Regions from separate parts of the Homo sapiens genome. Here region 2 is linked to region 1. The links come from fine-mapping of genetic effects on gene expression. A gene starts in region 1. The other region holds a variant in brackets. All regions are shown on one strand. Distances are between the middles of the regions. Region 1 holds the start of CORO6 (coronin 6). Region 2 overlaps SSH2 (slingshot protein phosphatase 2).

The links.
Region 2: its variant is fine-mapped to the expression of CORO6 in whole blood (TOPMed, PIP above 0.99).

Annotation. Positions count from the first base shown.
Region 1 is chr17:29,616,621-29,628,610 of GRCh38, forward strand. CORO6 (coronin 6) reads right to left here and starts at 6,292. Exons shown (of 11, transcript NM_032854.4): 1 at 6,068-6,292; 2 at 4,604-4,864; 3 at 3,031-3,153; 4 at 2,440-2,569; 5 at 2,170-2,351; 6 at 880-999; 7 at 318-422; 8 at 82-227. The coding sequence starts at 4,801. It overlaps SSH2 (slingshot protein phosphatase 2), which reads right to left. Exons shown (of 16, transcript NM_001282129.2): 16 at 9,318-11,990. RefSeq lists silencers at 2,644-2,713, 5,956-6,105 and enhancers at 3,691-3,985, 6,893-8,092.
Region 2 is chr17:29,679,392-29,691,381 of GRCh38, forward strand. It overlaps SSH2 (slingshot protein phosphatase 2), which reads right to left. Exons shown (of 16, transcript NM_001282129.2): 6 at 5,172-5,293. Among named protein-coding and RNA genes, the nearest start is that of SSH2-AS1, 46 kb to the left of the region's middle. The variant TGAG/T (reference allele first, on the strand shown) is at 6,346.

The DNA.
Region 1 (11,990 bases):
TGGGGAAGCCCCGTGGCTAGGACCCGACATGAGTGGGGGACAGAGGCGGGTAGGTGTTCAGGAGGGGCCAAGGCTGCTGACCGGGCGATCTCACACTTGCTGACATCCAGTCCCCTTTTGGGCATGAAACCCATGCCCCGCTGCGGCTCTTTGCTGCTGAACGTGTTCAGGTAGTGCACGAAAGGCGGCTCGTCGGTAATCTCAAAGTACCGAATGCTGCTGTCGCCCTGCAAAATCAGTCGGTTCAGGGGCGCGCCCGGACAAGGCCCTCCACATCTCCATCCAGTGCCCTGTTCTCCCTGCCCGGCCGTGAGCACCTTGCCACACAGGTAGACGATGCTGGAGTCGGGATCGTAAAAGGGCAATAGGACCCCGTTGCTTGTGTCCATCTCCTGCAGTGCCACTGGCTCCTCGAAGTTGTTCTGCCCGAGCACAGGAGGCGTGACCAGCCCTGCCCCACCCTCCCGTGCTACTTCGGGACCCCCAGAAGCCCCTTTACGCTTCCTGGCCTTCCCAAACCCTATGCCCCAAACCTCTAGTGACCAGAGTTGCAGGCCCCTCCCCTGGGCACATCTCTCCTCCTCCCCTGCGCACATAGCTCCTCCTCCCCTGCACATATACCCGCTGCGCGCCGCATGCAGTCACAGCAAACCACCCCCAGGGACTCGGCATCACCAGGTGGGGGCGCCAGCGCAGGATCCTTCACGCGACGCAGCAAAACTGGGCAGAGGGGTGGGTGTGAGAATGGCAGGCGCTGCAGAGGTGGCAGCAGCCTTCAGTCCTGTCCAGGTGGGCATGCCCTGCGGGTGGGGGGCGCCTGGCCACTCTCCCGTGATGCCAGTCCCCGAGGCACACACCCCAAGCCTCCAGCTGCGTTACCGGGTCCCACAGGCCCAGCTCTCGCTGGCTCATGCGGGTGAAGCCCGTGGTGAAGATATGGCCCTGGCGCGTGAAGACGGCCCGCATGGGCCTCATCCCCTCGTGGGCCGCAAACCTCTCCTGGGGGGAGGGGGAGACAGGGAGGGACATCACCCAGCTGCCTGCCCTGAGGAGCATGGAGGGATGAGCAACCAGCTTGCTGACTTGGGTGTCCGGGGTGGAGGAGCGGATGCGGGGAAGAGACAAATGGGGCCTAAGCACTCAGCTTCCTGCGGGGCCACGTCTGGCCCCTGACCTGGAGAGCATCCGGGCCTGGAGAGAGCAGGAGGCACGCGGCTCTCAGCCGATCCCGAACCCTTAAGCGCGCTCAAAGGCCGATCCCTAGAGCAGGGGTGTCTGCTGGCTCCCCGGAGTCGCAGCGAGGCTTTTCCCGAATGGGAGCTCCCCGCTCCGCTCTGGCCTCTTGGGCGCCAGCCACAGCCCGGGAAGGCGCTCCCGGCAGACCCAGAGAAGGAGCGAGCTAGCGCGCCCGGCGCGGCCTGGCCTACCGGGTCCCAGAGCGCGAGTTGCCGCTCACTCATCCTGCTGAAGCCGGTGCTGAGCAGCTTCCCGTCTGCGGTGAAGACAGCCCGCAGCGGGCGGGCGCCCTCGTGAGGCCGGGCTTGCTCCTGCTCGCCGGGTTAGTGGGTTAGAGCGCCCCGGCGCCAGCCCCGACCGCTCTCGGCGCGCTTGCTCCACGCAGACATGCACGCGGCCCACGCACCCGCACCCCAGGTTAGACTTGAGGCTGGCGAGGCCAGGGCCGCCGCCCTCCCAGGGCATCCGGCTGGGATAAGCAACGCGCGAGGGTTGCCCCATCCCCCGCCCAGCGGGTCCACAAGGAGAAAGGGCCAGCCCTCGAGCCAGTGTCAGGCCCCAGACCCTGGAAGATGCGTCTGGGTGCCGGCTGAGAGGAGAGGGGTCCAGGAGCTCAGGTTTCATGCAGGTTCTGGTGGGAGGATGGAGTTTCCAGCTTCTCCCCTCCTCAATCCCAAAGCGAGGAGCCCTTCTCTGAGCTTCTGAGATGCAAGGGAGGGGAGGGAACAGGAGCCGGGCAGAGAATTGCAGGCTGGGGGCTTACTTAGGGCAGAGACCTGTGGTTGCAGAGACGGGGGAAGGGGGCTAGTCTCTGGAGCAGGGATGCGACAGGTGAAAGCCGGGACCAGGGGCTCTGATAATGGTGGGTACAAGGGTGCTGACAGCTGGCCACTGGTCAAGGGGTTCTGGGGAGTGGCCAGGCCAGGCACTCACCGCCACCACTTGGCCTTTTCTGGGGTCAATGATGCGCAAGGTCTTGTCCTTGCAGGTGGTGGCTAGCAGGCTACCGTTGCTGTTCCAGCACACACTGTGGATGACGTCTGGGTGCATATCATCCAGGCTCAGCAGCACCTCCCCGGTGCCCACATTCCAGATGATGATCACATTGTCACCACCTGCCCAGAGTGGCCAGGCATGGTCACCTGGGTCCCACCTTTGCCACCACCCACCCATCTATGGGGGACCCCTCCTTAGCCCCCAGACCTGCACTGAGCAGGACATTCCTGGCAGTAGGGTGCCAGGAGAGGATGCCCACACGCTTGGAGTGGCCCTCAAGTGTGATGATAGGTTCCGTAATGTTGCGCATGGGGGTATAGTCTGGAATCTGCCACACCTGGGTAGGAAGAAAAGGTATATGGTGGGTGGAATGAGGAGCCACCCTGTCCCTCCACTCCTTCCCTACCTTTTTTTTTAACCCTACTGGCTCTCTTGAGTGGTAAGGGTCAAATACAGGGCAAGATGTGGTGGTGCATGCCTAGAACAGAAGCAGCTGGGAGCCAGGAGGGGGCACTGCCAGCTCTCCAGAGACCTCCCATTCACTCCAGCAGGGAGACTTCAGAGCACTGCCCTGCTGCTCTCCAGGCACCAAGTTGGCCATGGCTATAATTAGTCCTAAGCAGTGCATCCTGGGAGGGGGTGGGCATGTAGCTAAAAATAGTCCAGGAGCTGGGCAGGGCAGGGCCCTGGGACCCAGCACCTCCCTTATTACCACCCTTAGCACCTTCCCCAGCACAGGTGAGGCAGCCTTCCCTGCTCCCCTGCTCAACTGCCCAGCAGTAGCCACCTGGCTCCTACCATGATGGTGGTGTCGTCTGAGGCACTGGCGATAACGTTGTCATTGTGTGGACACCAGTCAATATCCAGCACAGGGGCAGTGTGCCCAGTGACCAGTGGGTAGTTCTTATCCACTCGCCCTGTCTGAGGGGTTGGAGAAGAAGATGTGGGGCTACTCTCCTGTGTGTTTTTTGGGGAGTGGGTAGCAGATCTGCTTACATCTCGATTCCTTATTACCTATTTTCTCTTTGCAGATCCCTCTCTGCACTTCTAACCCCATCCAGTCCACTTCCTGCACTTTACTGAAGGCAGAGTTGAAATAATTTAATATTAGGGACTGTGACACAGAGAGGTAAGATGGCCTCATCAAGGACACACAACAAGATACTTGTAGAGCTGAGATTTGAACTTTCCAGCCCAGTGCTCTTCCAAAGACACCTACTTGGAGGAGGCTGTTCTTCAGCCTGTTCTCCTATTGAAGTGTCTGTGGGAATCTCCTGGTGGAAGAGGTCAAGGTGAGATAATAGTGTAGTGCTGGACAGCCCTTTCCTGGCCTCCCTTGGCAGATCTCTTCCTTGTGAACCACTTTTACCTTGGAACCACAAGCAGCAAGCAGTCCTGGTGCCTACTATCCCCAAATGGGAGCTGGGGGCCCATCTATTTTTTGGTCTTCACAGGCTGCTTGTGGGGGTTCTGAGACCTCTGCAGGGGCAGACACTGGTCCAGACCAGGCAGCGGGGGAGAGGGTGGCTATGTGGTACTGAAAGAGCAGACATATTGGGGGAGGAGGCAGCTCCGGCTGAAATTTGAGCCCTGGGGCTGTGTCCCAGGATGATGTCTGCATTGTCTGGGGTGAGTCACTGGCTTTTTCAGGCCTCTTCCTGACCCCGCCACCTGTGGAGCCTACCCTAACAAGGTGTAGGGGCCAGAATCCAGGTCAAGGTCATACCTTGGGGGTTGGGGGAGAGTCATCCTTGGGATGTGGATGGTCAAGGGGCTTAAGGTTATGAAGCTAACGTGGTAGTCATTGCCTGGTCCCCATCCTGAGGGTAGGGAGGGCTCTGGCTTTATGTGTCATGTCCCCCTTCCTTTCCGTTCCCTTTCTTTCTACTTCACTGCAAGTGTCCTTGGAGGTAACCAGGGACTCTTTGGATAGAGCCTGACCCTGTCCTCAGTTTGCTGCTCTGGGATGTGACTTAATCAAATGGTCATCTTGGGCTAGGGAGGAGGTTCTCCACACCCAAAACATGAGGGGATGCGGCATTAGGAGAGGCAGTGATGGAATCTGGCCAGGCTTGGCTGTGCTGTGTCCCAACCATCTCCATCACCCGGCTCCCCTCCTGGTCCCTGCTGGGAATGGGGTGGTGCATGGAGAGGTGGGAGGGCTAGGGAGTGGGAGTAAGCCACCCTGATGTTAGGGTGGGGTGGGGTGGCCTCCCCTCTGGTCCTTGAGGGCTTGGGGAATAGGGAGGAGCCAATCCACACAGATGCTTCTCCTGACTATGGAATGGAACTAGGTGAGAACAAAGGCTCAGGAGTTCCCAGGGGCCCCAGCTAGTGTCCTCCCACTTGCTTCCTTTCCCTGATCCCTCACCTTGGCCAGAGGCAGGACGATGAAGGCACCCCCGCCTCCAGCCTCCACAATAATGGCCAGGAATTTGGGGTTGACGGCACAGAAGGAGCTGTCCCATGTGACCTTGGACACACGGATGTCCTCGTAGGCCTGGTCGGCCTTTGCTGCCTGCCCAAACACATGGCGGAACTTGCTTTGCCGAACCACACGTCTGCTCATAGCTGCAGGCAGAGAGGTAGGATCTCAGTGCCCAGAAATGCCTTTGGTCCTTAGTCCTGTGAGCTGCGGGAGGGAGGAGGAGTGGAGGGGTGGCTGATGAGAAGGGTTATGTGGTCAGGAGTCAGGTATAAATCCATATAGTGTCTGGTCCTAGAAGCAGGGAGCTTTCTTCAAGGTGGTCAAAGTATGGGAAAGTTATTTTGCTGTGTAAAATGCTGTTTAATGTAAGTGGCTAGGATTTGGGGCCTGAATTCTCCACAGAGACCCAGGCTGAGGGGATTGTGGAGCCTAACAGACTGAAAGCTTTCTGGACGTTGGAATGTTTTTGGGAGGAGCCTCAATGCCACACTGCCTGCACCCCCCGCCCCCACCACCGCCAGCCTTGATGAGCATCTCTTCACGGACGTGGTTGTAGCTCCCAGAGGCACCCTGTCCAGAAGCAGAAGACTTGACCATTGGATCTTGGCTTAAAGCCAGGTATGGGGCCAAGACTGCAGCCACCACAGGATACCGAACTCGCATCTCTGGAATAGTTCAGGCAGATGGGGTTTTGCCTTTTCCTAAAATTTTGCCAAGGGGGAAGTTCCTCCTGTCCACCAATCTGAGTCCTTTCTGCTACTGTTTTCATCCCATGCCTTGTGGGGGGACGGGTGGCAGCACAGAGTGAGGTGGATCCCTCTTCTCCCACTCCTTTCTGCACTGGCTTCTCCAGGAAGCCCTGATCATGGTCTTCTGGCTTTTGCCTACCATAGGCTTGTCCGGTTTCTCCTCTGGGTCCTCTGCCCTGGTTGGGCCTTCTTCCTAGTGAACTCTTCTAGGGGTGGGGTCTTCAACCCCATCCTCCACCCCTGCCCCCGCCACGGCCAAGCCAGATTTGCAGGGGTGGGGAGGGTGAGGTGCCTTTTCTCCAGCTAGGGTCTCCCTAGAGGACACACTGAGCACTCCCAAAGCCCCAGCCAGTGGCTCCTGCCCCACCCCAGCCCCAGCATCCGTGTGCCCTTCAAGGCGCGTCTGCGGCCCCGAGCCTGAGGCCCGGCCTCCCTGCACCCTTCTTCAGCCTGCTGCCCTGACACTGCGTTCTTGCGAGACGAGGTGTCTGCGCCCTCCGGGAGCGCTGGCTGCTGTCCGGCCAAATATAGACACCACGTCCTCCCCGCCCGAAACCGAATTTGGCGGCGCGGGGGGAGGAGGCGCAGACCTCTGCCCCTCAGGGACCCCGCCCGCTCCGCTGGCTGCGGTGACGGCCGGGTGTGGGGGGCTGGGTACCTGGTCCTGAGCGGGCTGCGGGGCGCTCACGCTGCGAATCCTCTGCGGAAGGGGCCCGAGTGCGTAGGGGGCCGAGGAAGGCTTCAGGGCGAAGGAGCCACCTCTCCGGGTGTCTGTAGTATCTGGGACCCGGGTGTCCAGCTCCGCACTCTGGCCGATCCTGCGGCTCTCTAGAGCCCGGCGCCGCTGCAGCCCCAGCTGCCGCTGCCATCAACCTAAGAGGGCGGGGCTAGCATAGGGGCGGGGCCAGAGCCCAAGTTGCCCCGCCCCCTCCAGCGGCGGGAAAGTCGAGCGACCCCGACTCCCCTCCCAGCTTCCGCCGGCCTCGGAGAACCATCGAAAATAAATGTGCAGCTGTGTGCTAGGTGCGCACGCTGCTTCCCTCCCTCCATGACTCCCGGGTAGGCTGGGGAGGCTCGGGTTCGCAGACCTAGAGCAGGACGCTTGGAGAGGGAACGGGCGAGGGGGCGTGCGCCCCTAGAGCGGGCAGCCGAGGGAGACCAGGTGCCTCCACCCGCATTCCAGCCTCAATCGCGCTCCCAATTTAGCTGTCCCGATCGGCCGGGACTGCGGGACTGCACTTCCAGGCCTCCCTGGGGGAAAGAGGCCCTAGAGAATGAGGACCCAGGCTGATCCTGATGTAGGGCAAGTGAGAGGGCACCCGACACAGGGTTGTGAATGTTAGTTATTGTTATGAATGGCAATAGCGATCATTTGAGAAACCTAAAATGCTGGCTGTGTGCTAGGCATTTCACCCCATTAGATGAGATTCCATGGAGCAGGGCAGGAAGCAGCTGAAAGAACAAGGGGAGGACCGAGTGTAAAGTGAACCCACCTTGACACTCCCTCCCCTCCCAGATGCAGGGGGAAGAGGCTAGCACCGGTCTCTAGTCACATTTTAGGGGTCAGAGAAGCCAACTCAGAGGCCAGACTCCTAATGTTTTCTGGGCCTTGTTTGAATTGGCGCCCGACTGTGTTCCAGGTAAGCTTCCCCCGTCTCCCCCAATATTCACAGAACTGAATGTTGACCGAGGTCAAGGAGATTAAAGATAACCTGATCAAAATACAGCCAGTGAAGACCAGCCAGTCCCGTAGCTCCAGTCTACCCAGTGTCTGCACATTGCCTGGATTTCTTCCCTTGGATCATAAGGGCATCTGGGGCCAGTTATTACTTCCCACCCTCCAGGGCACACCTGGGAGTGAGTGAATGGAACACAGCCTTCTGAAGGGCAGGAACCAGCACTGGGGAGGAAAGGGAGGGAAGGTGGTAGAAACCATGAAGGGCCCACGAGGCTCCTTTGTTTCTCAGGAAGAGTCCAGGTGGCTTGTAGGGACAGAATCAAATCAAGAGTCAGTGGCTTGTAGGGGAACAGAATAAAAAACTGTTACGAGTGCTCCAGAAATAACTCCTGGCGTAGGGGTGCTGGGGCAGGGTATGAGGGTATGTGAGTCATCTCTCTTTTACCTAAAGATTCCAGGCACATGATTAGGAGGAAAATACCTGAGTGACTCAGTTGCTCCTTTACAACAATAACCCATGCTTATGTGCTAGGCACTGGCACTAAGGGCTTTATACGTATTAATTTCATACTCTTAACAATCCTCTAGGCTGGTCGCGGGTGGCTAACGCCTGTAATCCCAGCACTTTGGGAGGCTGAGGCAGGTGGATCACCTGAGGTCAGGAGTTCGAGACCAGCCTGGCCAACATGGCAAAACCCCATCTCTACTAAAAATACAAAAATTTGCCAGGTGTGGTGATGCACACCTGTAATCCCAGCTACTCAGGAGGCTGAGACACGAGAATTGCTTGAACCTAGGAGGCAGAGGTTGCAGTGAGCTGAGATCATGCCACTGCCCTCCAGCCTGGGTGACAGAATGAGACTCTGTCTCAAATAAAACACACGCACAAAAAACCAAAAAACAATCCTCTAAGGTGGGTACTGTTGTTATCCCTATTTAACAGTTGAGGAAATGGAGCCACAAAGAGGTTAGGTGGCTTACCCATCACAACCTCAACTGGTAGTTGATGTAGCTATGATTCTTACCCACGTGGTCTGGCATCTGGTTCTTGCTTTTCAGCAGCATGCATTTCTGTCTCTCCCTGAAGGACAGTGCCACTTTATCTCACAAGTGCTGAGCTAAAACGTAACTGAGAGTTTATACTGTGTGGCACAGAGGAAAGGATGCCTGGAATGAATTAAAAAACTGGTTCCAGTCCTGGCTCAATCGCCATATTTTTACAGCTCTCTGAACAGGATTGGGTCAGATTCTTTCCAACTCTGCACCACTCCTTAGCAGAGTAGGGATTTTATGTGCTGCCTCCTCTGAAGTGGCATCTCCCCTACCCCCACCCTCCTTCTCTTTAAAGAGAACAGGAGACTCCCTTCTAGAGGGAAGCGCTTGGGACTAGGAAGCAGGAATCCTTCAATGCGTGCTCCCTTCAGTTCCATCATCTAGGAAGAGCAGTGCTTTCTGGGTACAGGGATTCAGATATTTGCTTGGGCCTGGCGTAGCTCAGCCCTGCCCTCTAGCCTTCTTCTGGCTGCCAAGGCCTGACAGAGCTGTGAGTGGGCAGAGTTAAGGCAGGAAGAACCAATCAGGGAGAGAAGCTACTTGGGCTTCGTGCCTCCCTTTTGAACTGTTAGCTCTGAACGGCAATCCATAGAAGACAGCCATGGATTTCATCTTTTAGGAAGCCATTTTCTGGATGAGGTAGCTCGCAACTTAGCCATGATTTGGTCCATCTGCTTTGGCTAGAAAACCAAGACTGAACTTATCTAGATTGGTCAGGGATCCCAGGGATCCTTAGAATATTTTGTGAAAGACCTTACCTTCACCGTCATGCACTCCAGCTAAAGACCAGCACTGTGCCCCTCCCACTTGATATGGATGATTCAGAATGAAGCAGGCTGACTTTAGTTCAAGGCAGTGATTTTTTTTTTTGAGGGGGGCGGGGACTTCAAATTTTGTTAGCAATTGGGAACTGGAAACTGAGCTCTCCCTAGATGGTAGTCCTGCCTTGTATGTGATGAATGGCACCACTAAATATCTCATGATGTTCATGTCCCATTTCTAGACATTTTTCAGTGGGCTGAGGTGTTTCATTTATTTCTGGGGACTCAGCTCTCTCTTCAGGGTGACATGACTGGGATCAATCATTGAAAACTACTGGTGTTCACTGTGTTTCCTCTTCTGACTCTCCCACCTTCTCCAGCACCTCCCTCCTTTGTTGCATCTGATGAAGTACACGTTTCATCTTCAAAATAAAAATTTATTCAATCTGTAACAAGAACATTGAATCTGCACATTTGCGCACAAGTTCACATTTAAAAACAGTGGAGCATATCTGTAATAAAAAAATCTATGATACAAGTGGAACATCCCAACCACCAGGAAGATTAAGGAAGGAGATGAGACCACTCTATATTCTGCTTCAAATGCCTCAAAAATGTCCCAGAGATTCCAGGGAGCACCTGCTTTAATAAAACATGAGCATAAAAGTTTGGGGTGGCTTGGGGCAAAGGTAACAGTCAGAGGAGAGTCTTCTGGACTTGTTTTCCATGTTAGAACAAGTCCTACAAAACAAAGCAGAAAGAAAAAAAAAAAAAAAGAAAAGTAAAGGCACCTTTAGATATGCCAAGCAAACCAAAATCCAACAGAACATAAAAATCAAACATTTCCCTGTGGGCTTACTGATTGGGAAGCACTTCAGGGCCAGTTACCCAGTTTTTAGTTTGGGTATTAGCTCTGCATGTGTACACAGGACGCTGCCACCAGCATTGCTTTGAGGACACAGACGGCAGCACCAGTCAAATGCCTCTTAAGGGATCTTCAAGGTGATTAAGGATGATTCCAGTTTAGAAATCCTATCCTAGACCTCTGGGGCACTGAGAAAATGAGGCTGGTTATCTTCTCATAGCAGGAGCCAGGGCCAGTCACCCTCCATTTCCAGGCTGGAAAAGTACAGAAGCACCTTGCAATAGCTCTTCATGACGTCAAGGGACCCCACACCCTGGGAGAAGGGTTAGGAGTGTGCAGCTTCCTGCTTTGGTGGCAGGCCTTTTCCTAATATGGGTGTCAGAGGAGTTGAGGCAGCAAATATGCTTGTGTCTAATACATGCCTTGATCTTTTAGTTTGGAAGGGAAAACAAAGTCCAAGATGCTTTTAAGTTGGATTGATGCTGAAACAGCTAAAATTTCATCTTATCCACCATCAAAAAGCAAAACAAAATTAAACAAAATGACACTAGCCATTCACCATTACAACCATCACTATAAGACACACCATCACTGAGGAAATGACAACTATTTCCATAGAGAGTGCTGGATGGGAGGGCAGGACACAGACGGAAGTCAGCTTCAGCGTATACCCACTTACTCACAAGGGCTGACCATGATGGCCCTGCTCTGCATGAGGACTCACAGGACAGCCAGGGCACTGATGCCTGCAGGACTGCATGGCCGACAAGATGATGCACATTTTAATATTCAAAATGTAAACAAAGTATCCACAAATAGTCCAAAAAAGCCAAAGAATGGCTTTACTTAAAAATTTTTAAATGCCCTTAAAAGTGACTTTTTGCATAATGCTTTCTTAAAAAAAGAACTCTCACAAAAACATTTTTACCAAACATGCCTAGATCACTTCAGAACTGAAATCCTCAGATGAAACAGGTGAACACTTCTGTGACCTGCTACATCTCAGAAGCTTCTCATAGGAAGCTTTGAGTTTACCCAACAGCATCTGTCTGGGGCCTGTGAGCAGAGTACCTCAGAGCCTGAGGCACTGAGATCTTCAGGCTGTCCTTGGAGCTCTGGGTAGTTTGCAAAATGAGAAAGAGGAACTATCAGTAGGGATAAAGACACAGAACAAGGAAATCCATAACCCTGTCTCAAGCCTCCTCAGAACCAGGAAAATACTAAAGATCCTGAAGAGACTAAGATGATAGGAATGATCCCAAACATTTAGAATCTGAAAGGCAACTAAAATGAGGAGAGATGAATATTACGGTACTATAGTACTACATGTCTACTACAGTATCCATTAGTCCTGGGTGTCTCCAAAAATCAAGAAAGGGTTGGGGTTTCCCTTTCTACTGACCAGGTTCAGCTCAAGTTCTGTATGCTCCTGGGGCTTTTACCCCATACACCAAAACATCAACTGTTTTTATATATGTACATATGTGTACACATGCACATACACTCCTCCAAAATAAGTGAGAGTCTATGGTGGTTTAAAAAGAGAGAGAGAGAGAGGAGAGAGAGAGAGGCAGGCAGGCACTGGGCAAGAGTCAAAGTTTTTCCTATTCATCTTTGCCAGTCTATCAAATCTGCTGCTTCAGGTCAGGTCATGAACAAAAGAAAAGGGAAAGATGCCACTGGAGATTATAAAAGTCTGAAGAGAAGACAGTCTGGAAAGTCCTTGACAGTTCACTGCGCACCTCCCCTGGACACTGCTCAGCTATGTAAATAACCCAGGAACACCCAATTCTGGGAGTCTGAAAAGGCTGGCACAAACTCCTTGGCATGGTTGAATGACAGATATTCTGTAGAAGATGTTTATTTAGGCAGGTAAATTAAATGATAAAAAAAGTAATTATAAAAAGGCAGAAAGACTTTCCTCTGCTCTTGAAAATTTTTTTTCCCCACAGTATTAGTGGGTTTTGTCCCATCTTTGTTGTTATTTAATGCAGTGAGTGAACATTAAACACAGTGGAGGGGAGAAGAGGGAACAGTCCAAAACTTTGGTCCTGCTTGTACCTCTTAGTGTGTGGGATGTCATCATCGTAAGGGGTTACCACAAGTGGATGCCACTCTCTTAACTTCCAGGCAAACCCTCTCCCCACCCTGCCATAAGTTCCTGCCCTTCCCCATCATATTGGTGGTGGAACTGCTTCAAGAAGGCAGGGTATTCTACATGGAA
Region 2 (11,990 bases), 63 kb after region 1:
TTAAAATTTATTTTTATTTTTTTTTTTATTTTTAAGATGGAGTTTCACTCTTGTTGCCCAGGCTGGAGTGCAATGGTGTGATATCGGCTCACTGCAACCTCCACCTCCTGGTTCAAGCGATTCTCCTGTCTCAGCCTCCTGAGTAGCTGGGATTACAGGCATGCACTACCACGCCCAGCTAATTTTGTATTTTTAGTAGAGATGGGGTTTCTCCATATTGGTCAGGCTGGTCTTGAACTCCCAACCTCAGGTGATCCACCCGCCTTGGCCTCCCAAAGTGCTGGGATTACAGGCGTGAGCCACCGCGCCCAGCAACTGTATAATCTTAGGCAAATTACTTAACTGTCTTGTGCCTTAATTTCTTCATTTGTAAAACTGGGATAAAAATATCTTCTTCATTGTACTGTTTTGAAGATTAAATAACAAATAAAAGAGTAAAATAGTGTCTAAGTGCCTAAAATGTAATAGTCATTACCATTTATTGAACATCTACTATGCCAAAAGATCTGGGATTGATTTCCTTCAGTATTACAACTTTTTTTTAAACAAATTATTTAACCTCTCTCAGCCTTAATTTCTTCATCTTGAACTGTGAATAATAAAACCTATTCTCATAGATATAGGTATAAAGACATAACATACTTAAAATAAAACAATATATGTGAATATACTGTCCTGTAAAACAAATGTTGAATATGAATCTGTAATGGGTGCTCTAATATATCTGAAAGTGATTGGGGGAAGGGGAAACCATTATGCTTTAAAAACAACATAATGAATACCAAACTTTAACTGTTAGTCACTGCAGGGTTAAAGGAGGCTAGCCCTTAGTTGGGCTTTCCACTACACTTGCTGGCCTGTGCTGCTTAACACCTTAAGAGTGATTCCAGGCCAGGCACGGTGACTCATGCCTGTAATCCCAGCACTTTGGGAGGCCGAGGTCAGGAGTTCAAGACCAGCCTGGCCAACATGGCGAAACTCCATCTCTACACTAAAAATACAAAAATTAGCTGGGTGCAGGGGCAGACAGACACCTGTAATCCCAGCTACTCGGGAGGCTGAGGCAGGAGAATCACTTGAACCTGGGAGGTGGAAGTTGCAGTGAGCTGAGATTTGCGCCATTGCACTCCAGCCTGGGAGACACAGCAAGACTCCCTCTCAAAAAAAAAAAAAAAAAAAAAAAAAAAAAGAGTGATTCCAGAGCTCAGGAGATTCAAATCAAGACTGAAACAGCTTATCCACATTAGAACCTGGACCTGAACAACAGAAACACAGCTACCATGCCAGAGTCCAGGAGCAAGACAGCTCTACCACAAGTTTTGTTGAGTAGATGAGATGAGCGCACAAAAAAATTTGTTTTGAAAACGGCTTCCCAAGATGAAGTGGGGATAGTTTTACAGTAGCTTTTTGTTTTGTATTTAGTGAGTGCTTAGCCAGGTTCTTAGCAACAAGTATAATTTTGAGTATAAATATGGTGGGTTGGTAGCCCAATGACAAATCTAGAAATTAACTATATAAAAAGATACAGAAGCTGCAAAAGAGTGTGATCTATAAGCTTGTGACCAGATTTTGGTTAACCTTTGGACAAGTGACATTGATATACAGGAATCGACATTACATTTTTGGCTTGTATTCAGGCCAGAGTGCTTTTTTACATTAAGAAGTAGCTTTTTCAGCAGGGCGTGGTGCCTGTAATCCCAGCACTTTGGGAAGCAGAGGCGGGCGGATCACGAGGTCGAGATAGAGACCATCCTGGTCAACATGGTGAAACCCCGTCTACTAAAAATACAAAAATTAGCTGGGCATGGTGGTGTGCGCCTGTAGTCCCAGCTGCTTGGGAGGCTGAGGCAGGAGAATCGCTTGAACCCAGGAGACGGAGGTTGCAGTGAGCTGAGATTGCACCACTGTACTCCAGCCTGGCCACAGAGTGAGACTGTCTCAAAAAAAAAAAAAAAAAAAAAAAAAAAAAAAGTAGCTTTTTCACGCAACAGGAAGGAAAGGACTGAATAAGGCACGCTTGGTATTTTTATCCAGGTTACCTCAGTCTCTCAAGATTTTTCTCCATTTAAGTATAACTACTTATTTTAGTAAATATTCAATTCATTCAATAAAAATTTATTTAGTGCCTACTATGTACCAGACATTTCAAGGTGTTAGGGGTACAAAAAGAAATGGAAAAAAAAAACCCCAAAAAACCATGAAGCTCTATTATTTTATAACTTAAAATATGTTACACTTTAGAAACCAAGATTATGCTGCATATTTAAAAAATTATTAAAATATAACATAATACTCAAAGAACTTGTAAATGGGCTAAATGAATTGGCTGCAACGTATTATTAAGAACTATTTGTACTTGTCATAATCTGGGTTCCACTTTGGCTTAATACTATTTTGAAGCATTAACATTTACATTCTCAGATATGAAATGATACAAATTCAAATTCCTTCAACAACAACTGAGACAGAAATGATTTTAGATTACCTGAGCATCTGAGACTTCTTACTGTCCAAGGAACTCATTAAAGCAGAGGATGTATGGGAATTTCATAATAGCAAGTTTAGCAAACAGAATGAAAACTAGTTTCTAGCTTTTCATGTTTTAAGTTTGTCTTCTATAAACTATAATTTCCTTTGGCTAGTGACACTGGTCAGATATGATTCAGACAGGGCCATTGGCAAAAGATAGATGTAATTTACTGAGTATAAACTACTGGATACCTATATTAATATGCATTCTTTCTGGTAAAGTTTAGGACAAAGTGAAAGAGAAATGATTAGACATGTGCTTGCTCATATTCTGGGTCAGGAGAATCTGCAGTTATTGTCTTCTGTCTCTAGGGGAAGATTCAATTGAAGCTTCATGAGGTTCCTGTTCCTGTTTTATAGGGTTTTCAAGGGAGGGGGTCAGGGAGAACTGAACAAAGGAAATATGAGCTAGAACAGTGCTGTCCAACTGAACTTTCTGCAAGAATGGAAAATGTTCTATACATGTACTGTCTAATACGATAGCCACTAGCACATACGGTTACTGAATACTTGAAATGTGACTAGTTAGAACTGAGGAATTGAAATTTCATTTAATTTTAATCTATTTAAAAAGACACGTGCATGCTGTATGCAGTGGCTCATGCCTATAATCCCAGCACTCAGGAAGGCAGAGGCAGGAGCTCAGGAGTTGAGACCAGCCTGGGCAACACAGAGAGACTGTGTTCTTCACAAAAAGGAAAAAAGAAAAGAAGAGAAGAGAAAAGGAAGGAAGATGAAAGAAGGAAGGAAGGCAGGCAGGCAAGAAGGAAGGAAGGGGCACATATGGTTAGTGGCTACTATACTGGACAACACAGATCTAGAAAGATTAAAAACCTAAATTAGAGGTCCTAAAATCCTAATGAATGTAAACAAGGTAGGTGCTGTTATAGGAAAATGCTTACTGAAAGCTCTGTTGCTTAATCAGAAGTTAAAACCATGCAGGAGAAATCTTCCTAAATCTGGTTTACAAGCCTGTGTAAATTCAGAGCCTACAATTAAATGCTGTTAAGTGGTATACAAGCTAATAACTTTGGCTTTGGGAATTCCTGTGAACCCCCAAGTCATTTTCAGGTTGACTTCTATATAGGAATAAGGTAAACATTGGTTTGGGAAACTTTCTAGTGACAAAGTGATTTTTTCCCCTCAACATCAGGAAAATTAGAATCATTCCCAGGCTCCTCCTCTCTTTGTGGCTAAATTTCCCTAGGCCTGGGTCACACCCCTAGCTACCCCATAGTTCCATTCTAATCCTGAACCAGGAAGTCAATGCTTTGAGACATCTGGCAGGATTTCCTGAGGCTAATTATCCACAGCGTAAAGATCTGCTTAGCAGCCACATTCCAAAGTCTTCCGAAGGTTTCTCCAGAAAAAGTGGGAAAAATAAAAAAGGAAAGCAACAAACCTTAAGGACACACGAAAAGGCCAGGTGTTGTGTGTCATCTTTCATCATAGAATGTAAAGTACAGCTAAAGCCAAAGGTACATAAAAAGTTCTGCTTTGAGTTTAAGGAGCCATCCCGTACCACCCCATCCCCGCCCCGCCCACCATCCTTTTTAACTCAATAGAAGGAAAAAGGAGGCATAGCATTTGGTAAAAGCAAGGTTTAAACAAAACAGACTGTAGTTTAAGTGGGATCTCTTTGTATCTGGGACTACTGGTATACTACCACAAAGGGTAGGTGCCCTAGAATCACCAAAGTGAATCATTACTGACTACAATAGAGTAGGCCAGGTGCAAGGCTCATGCCTGTAATCCCAGCACTTTGGGAAGCCGAAGTGGGAGGATTGCTTAAGCCCAAGAATTCAAGACCAGCCTGGCCAACATAAGGAAATCTTCTCTCCAGAAAAATAAGGAAAAAAAAAAAAAAAAGACCAAATAGCTGGGTATGGTGGTGCATGCCTGTACTTCTAGCTACTTAGGAGGCTGAGGTGGAAGGATTCCTAGAGCCCAGGAGGAATTTGAGGCCGTAGTGAGCTGTGACTGCATCACGGCACTTCAGCCTGGGCAGCAGAGCGAGACGCTGTCTCAAAAAGAGAAATAAAAAGGCAGCTTTTTTTCCATGGAAATGTAACTTTGAAACCACTTGCTTTATATTGTGACTATCTAAAGATGAGATGAAGGTATGGAATAATGGTAAATTGGAAACACACGACCAAAGACATTCACTAAACATTCTTGTTTCTCAAGACTGTGGCTAAGATACTTATGTTCTTTAGTTTTATGTCTTGTACTTTAACAGCAGAACTGCACAAGATATTTTTGTGATAAAAGGCAACTGGGGCCAGGCACGGTGGCTCACGCCTGTAATCTCAGTACTTTGGGAGGCTGAGGTGGGTGGATCACTTGAGGTCAGGAGTTTGAAACTGGCCAATATGGCAAAACCCCATCTCTACTAAAAATACAAAAATTAGTTTGGCATAGTGGTGTACACCTGTAATTCCAGCTACTCAGGAGGCTGAGGCAGGAGAATCGCTTGAACCCGGGAGGCGGAGGTTGCAGTGAGCCGAGATTGAGCCACTGCACTCTAGTCTGGGCAACAGAGTGATGACACTCCGTCCCCATTAAAAAAAAAAAAAAAAAAAAGCAACTGGAACAGGTTACTTAAAAAGCAGTTTTCACATTTTGAAATGGTACCACCATACCTGTCATTAGAGGAGAAATCCATTCCTAGGACGATGCTTTCTTCAGTGTCTTGTCTACCATTAGTTGAAACCACTACCATATAGCGTGTTCGATTCTGGTAAGTACTTTCCAGTCTTACAGCCTGGAATTTAGCAGACAACAGAGAAATTATGAAATTTAGGACATTAATTTCAGATCATTTCAACCCTTTTTCATCAGCATCTTAAAGCATACTCACGAAGGCAGCAGAGCCAGTAGTTAGGAGACATAAATTAAAATCTCAGCTCGTACACTAGCTATAAAAACTTTGGTAAGTTACTAAATTAATTGGAGGGAGATATAATAATACCTAACTGTCAGGTTGTTTTAAGAATCTTATAAAATAATACAGTAAAGCACAGTGCTTGGCACACAGTAAATGCTCAATAAGATGTTTGTTATTAGTGCAATTTATACTAATTACCACAGTGTGTAATAAAGACTGAAGAGGGAAATGTGAGGTATATGAATGTGAGCATTGGTCTCAGAGATGCAATTCCCACAAACAATTATAATATGGAGCAAACTATTAGCATCATCTAAGGGGAGTACTGACTTTGCTATACTGAATTCCTGCATGTTAATGCACTATAAGATTTTCTTCAGTTTCGATGATAATGAAAGGAGATTGCATTTTTAGAAACTTCTCATTTTTTGTCAAAAGTTTTAATTTATTCTTAATTAAATTTTAAAAGGACCCTCAGAAAATCTGAATATGGACAGGGTCTTAGATGAAATTAAGGATTTACTGTTAATGTAATAACAGCATTGTGGTTACTGTGACTTTTTCTTAAGTACCTGGAGTGAAATGACATGGTTTCTGAGTTTTACTTTAAAATGTTCCAACAAAAAAATTTAACAGGGAGTGGGGACAGATGAAAGAAATCAGACAAAAGGTTGATGGTTATTAAAGCTGAGTAATGGCCAGGCACGGTGGCTCATGCCTGTAATCCCAGCACTTTGGGAGGCCAAGGTAGGCAGATCACCAGAGGTCAGGAGTTCAAGACCAGCCTGGCCAACATGGTGAAACACTGTTTCTACCAAAAATACAAAAAAAATTAGCTGGGCGTGGTGGCGCACGCCTGTAATCCCAGCTACTTAGGAGGCTGAGGCAGGAGGATCACTGGAACCCAGGAGGCGGAGGTTGCAGTGAGC[TGAG/T]ATCACCCCACTGCCCTCCAGCCTGGGTGACAGAGTGAGACTCTGGTTCAAAAAAAAAAAAAGCTCAGTAATGAGTTTGTGAGGATGTACTTTCTTTCTTTCTTTTCTTTTTCTTTTTTTTTTTTTGAGACAGAGTTTCGCTCTTGTTGCTCAGGCTGGAGTGCAATGGTGTGATCTCGGCTCACCGCAACCTCTGCCTCCCGAGTTCAAGCGATTCTCCTGCCTCAGCCTCCCGAGCAGCTGGGATTATAGGCATGCGCCACCACATCCAGCTAGTTTTGTATTTTTATTAGAGACGGGGTTTCTCCATGTTGGTCAGGCTGGTCTCAAACTCCCAAGCTCAGGTGGTCTGCCCACCTCGGCCTCACAAGATGCTGGGGTTTACAGGCGTGAGCCACCGCGCCCAGCCTTGATAAGTTCAAAAAGGTATCTTATAAGCCTTAAAAATAAAACAACTACAGGCAACACATTCAAATATTTATTACACATATATTATATATACAATAACAATGCCAAGTGCTGAGGATTCAGTGGTAGAAGAGAGAGACATGATCTATGCCCTCATCGAGTTATATAGTCTAGGCTACTCTTCTTTCATTTGTTAATAATAGTTTTAAAATGACAGTTTTTTTTTTTTTAAGAGACGGAGTCTTGCTCTGCCTCTCAGGCTGGAGTGCAGTGGTGTGATCTCGGCTCACTGCAACCTCCACCTCCCAGGTTCAAGCAATTTTCCTGCCTCAGCCTCCTGGGTAGCTGGGACTACAGGCACATGCTGCCACGCCCGGCTAATTTTTTTTTTTTTTGTATTTTAGTACAGATGGGGTTTCACCATGTTGCCCAGGCTGGTCTCGAACTCTGAACTCAGGCAATCCACCTGTCTTGGCCTCCCAAAGTGCTAGGATTACATGCACGGGCCACTGCACCCAGCCTTTTCTTTTTGTTTTTTTGAGACAGAGTCTCCCTCTGTCACCCAGGCTGGAGTGCAATGGCGTGATCTCGGCTCACTGCAACCTCCGCTTCTTGGGTTCAAGCGATTCTCCTGCCTCAGCCTCCCAAGTAACTGGGATTACAGGCACATGCCACCATGCCTGGCTAATTTTTGTATTTTTATAGAGACAGGGTTTCACCATGTTGGCCAGATGGCCAGGCTGGTCTCGAACTCCTGCCTCAGGTGATCCACCCACCTCAGCCTCCCAAAGTGGTGGGATTACAGGCGTGAGCCACCCACCTGGCAAAATGACAGATCTTTGAAGCCAGAAAAATGTGCTCTGGAGGCAAATTCTTCTGTATAAAATAACCCCTATTCCTTAGAGAAACAGAATTCTAATCCATCAACTGGCTCATTATATTTGTCAGAAATTTCTATTTGGAACTTTTTTTTCAGTGCTGCTGTTCTTGGAGTCTCCCTCCTGTTAACTCTGTCACCATTCCAAAATGGCCAGGCCAAGGGAAAAAGAGGCATAGTTACACGGCTCAAATGACCCATTTAGCAAGGCAGAGGTGAGACTCCCATGGCTATCTTTTTGTCTCTATTCTGATACTCCTAGGAAAAGCTAGGGAAGCACAAACAGCAGAAGTGGCTACATTAAATCTTGTTTCTAATAAGAACGGATATAACAAGAATGTAATGCTTACCATTCTGATGCCAAATGCATAAGATAGAGAGCTGTACTTTTGACTTCATGTTCCATGAAGTAATTGAGCATTTAAAACCAAATTCACTTATGAGAAGCTAAGCGGAACTAACATTTAAATGGACTAAGATCTAGAAGGCTGGGATCAAGGGTGGGATATTATACACACAGAAAAATGAATAAATAGTAAATGTACATGTGGCAGACCGGGAGGCAGTACTGACTCCTTCTCTGATTGTAGAAACACTCTACAACATGTTAATTAATCACAAATCCTGGTGCAGGTAAACTGGATTTTCTTATAAACAAGATCTCGCATATTATTACATATTTATATTTGGGCCTCCCTTGGCCCAAGTTTCCTGAATGTGTTAGAGGCTCTTTTATTCTCTGTCAACGCTCCAAGAATTTCTGGCAAGGCTCAAATACAAATGGCCTGGGAACAAATGAACTTTGTTTCTGACAATTTATTTACAGCTCCTACACCAACCAGTGGCAACTGATTGGCTAAGTCAAAGCTGATAAAAGGAAAAATATAACTTTCATAAGTATTATCTATAATGCAAGTTACCAGCCAAGTTAGAAGTGGGCTGCAAGAGTTTCTTTGTAAGTGATATTCATTGCAAACATTAGTGTTTTTTTTTTTTTATTTTTCGAGATGGAGTCTCACTCTATCGCCCAGGCTGGAGTGCAGTGGTGTGATCTTGGCTCACTGCAACCCCCGCCCCCCGGGTTCAAGCGGTTCTCCTGCCTCAGCCTCCCAAGTAAACGGGATTACGGGCACCTGCCACTGCGCCTGGCTCATTTTTGTGTTTTTAGTAGAGATGGGGTTTCACCATGTTGGCCAGGATGCTCTCGATCTCTTGACCTTGTGATCCACCCGCCTCGGCCTCCCAAAGTGCTGGGATTACAGGTGCGAGCCACTACGCCCGGCCAGATGTCTCTTTAAAGTTTATTTTATAATATCAAAAGCATTTCAAATGTTTGGCTCTCCCTTGCTTACTCAAACTGTAACAGAAGTTCCCAAACCTAATGAGAAGGGCCCCAGACATTTAATACTGACTTAGGCTTGAATAACATGCATATCTCAGATCCATTCAATTTTAAGCTTCTTTTTTGTTTTTGTGTTTCACTCTGTTACCCAGGCTGGAATGCAGTGGTGTGATCTGCAACCTCTGCCTCCCGGGGTCCAGCAATCTTCCCACCTCAGCCTCCCAAAGAGCTGGGACCACAAGTGCCCGCCACCATGCTTGGCTAATTTTTTGTATCTTTGGTAGAGATGGGGTTTCACCATGTTGTCCAGACTGGTCAATTTTAAGCTTCTTAAATGGAAGAATAGCACTTAAGAGTTCCTGGAATTTGATCACAGGCCTCTAGACAGTACCTACAGTATTGATTCAACACCTATATCCTAATTAGAAGGATGAGATAAAAATCTTTGAAGAAAAAATTCTGAAATGTGAGGGGATAAACCCAAGACTTTAATTAAAGTTCCTTTTAGGCCGGGCGCAGTGGCTCACGTCTGTAATCCCAAAACTTTGGGAGGCTGAGGCAGGTGGATCGCTTGAGGTCAGGAGTTCGAGATCAGCTGGCCAACAGGGCAAAATCCTCTCTCTACTAAAAATACAAAAAAAATTAGCTGGGTGTGGTGGCATGTGTCTATAATCCCAGCTACTCAGGAGGCTGAGGCAGGAGAATTGCTGGAACCCAGGAGGAGGAGGTTGCAGTAGGTTGAGATCACGCCACTCCACTCCAGCCTGGGCGACAGGGCAAGTGAGACTCTCAAAAAAAAAAAAAAGTTCCTTTTAAGCTTCAAGATTCTAGGTTAAGGAATTAAAAATCTATGTGCCGCAGCCATAAGGAAAAGTCTAACGCCCATCCTGGTTTAAGGTTTATTTCGTATTCCTCTGTTGGAGATAAGATTAAGCAAAATCTAATAATTTATTAACACAATCAAATAAATTTAAAATGGCAATTTTGTACATAATATCCTAATTTTGAAAAGGACAGCATTTCCAATGTTTCTTCAGTCTCCAGAACCTATATTGAAATCAATGACTGGAATAAGACAATAATTGAGATGCATTTGATTTATCAACTAAAGTTCTCCTTGAAAAGGACACTACTGAAGTCCATTTTAATTGTCTAAACAAAACAATTATTCTGGACTTTAAAACTTGGCAGCAATAGTAACTAAGATTATATTTCCAAGAAACTACATTTACTGCCTAAATGTGGAATCCTATTACAAGTTACAGGTGAATTGGATCCAGCAATCTTAGGACTGAAGTAGGTCTGAGAAGTCATCCCCTGCCTCTTTATTCCTGAAGAACCCAATCTGTTTTCAAAGCTCATCTATTAAAGAATAATGCTATTCCCTCGGCATCCAATTTAAATGTTTAACCTAATTACAAGCAGTTTACAAACTGGGCATAGTGGCATGCCAGCTACTCGGGAGGCTGCAGTGGGAGTATTACTAAAAATACAAAAATTAGCAGGGCATCATGGCATGTACCTGTAATCCCAGCTACTCAGGAGGCTGAGTCGTGAGAATCAGTTGAACCCAGGAGGCAGAGGCTGCAATAAGCCGAGAACACACCACTGCATTCCAGCCTGGGTGACAAAGCGAGATCCATCTCAAAAAAAAAAAAAAAAAAAAAAAAGAGCTTCTCTCCTCAGCATCATCTAACATCAGGAAATACTCCTCCTTAAGCTTAAACTGTAACTTTGCCTTTAATTTCTTTTCACCACTGGGTGCAGTGGCTCACGCCTATAATCCCAGCACTTTGGGAAGCCAAGGCGGGCAGATCACCTGAGGTCGGGAGTTCAAGACCAGCCAGACCAATATGGAGAAACCCGGTCTCTCCTAAAAATACAAAAAATTAGCCAGGCGTGGTGGCGCATGCCGGTAATCCCAGCTACTCAGGAGGCTGAGGCAGGAGAATCGCTTGAACCTGGGAGGCGGAGGTTGTGGTGAGCCAAGATTGCGCCATTGTACTCCAGCCTGGGCAAAAGAGTGAAACTCTGTCTCAAAAAAAAAAAAAAAAAGACTTAATTTCTTTACACCAAGAGTCTTACATGCATGCCCCTGTGTGCATGATGTAAGACTCTTGGTGAAAAGAAATTAATTACCCCCAGTAAACTACATTATAAAGGCCCAATGTCTAAGACAGGCAGTTCACCCAATCCATCAGAGAGAAAGGTTCCAAAAGTAGGTAAATATTAAATGCTAGTCAAAAGAATGAAGCAAAATCAATAGCCAAAATTAAAACAGGCTTCACTTGTGACACTAGTAAACTAAAGAACACTGTCTTCAAAAGAAAAAGATTAGAGCTTCAGGAAGTCTCTGAATTTTTTTTTAAATCAGTCTGTATGAAATTCTTAAATATGAATTATATTCTGTGTAGCCATTAAAAACCATGATTTATTTATTGACATGGAAAGATATCCATGATAAACTATGAAGAAAGTAGGTTACAAAAAGGTATTTCTATTTTTATCACATTTTCGTAGAAACAAAACAATGCTCTTCCTCTCACTCTTTACACACACACACACACAGACACACACACACACATAGACACACACACTCTCTCTCTCATATATACATATTTAAAAAAAGAGTGGAAGGATACTTATCCAAATTGCTGAGAACGATTTTCTCAGAATGTAGAATACAGAGTGATTTTTATTTTATTTATACCTTTTTGCATTGTTTGGGAGAAAAAAAAACCCCACATAATACATTTATAGCTAGAAAAAATGAACCAATTTCCATTTTAGAAAGCAACATATGATGAAAACCAAAATCATAAAACTTCTCATTTTCTTGAATTCTCCTGCAAAATACTCAAAAAAGACCTCTTTGTACCTTATCAACACTTCAGCTTTAGTTAAGAACATCAATTGAAATTACTTCAAATGTCCTGAAAATTCTTAATTTCTCAGATTAATGTTTTAATTAAATGGTTGATCTTTGGTAACGTGCAAGAGTACTATAAAACCACT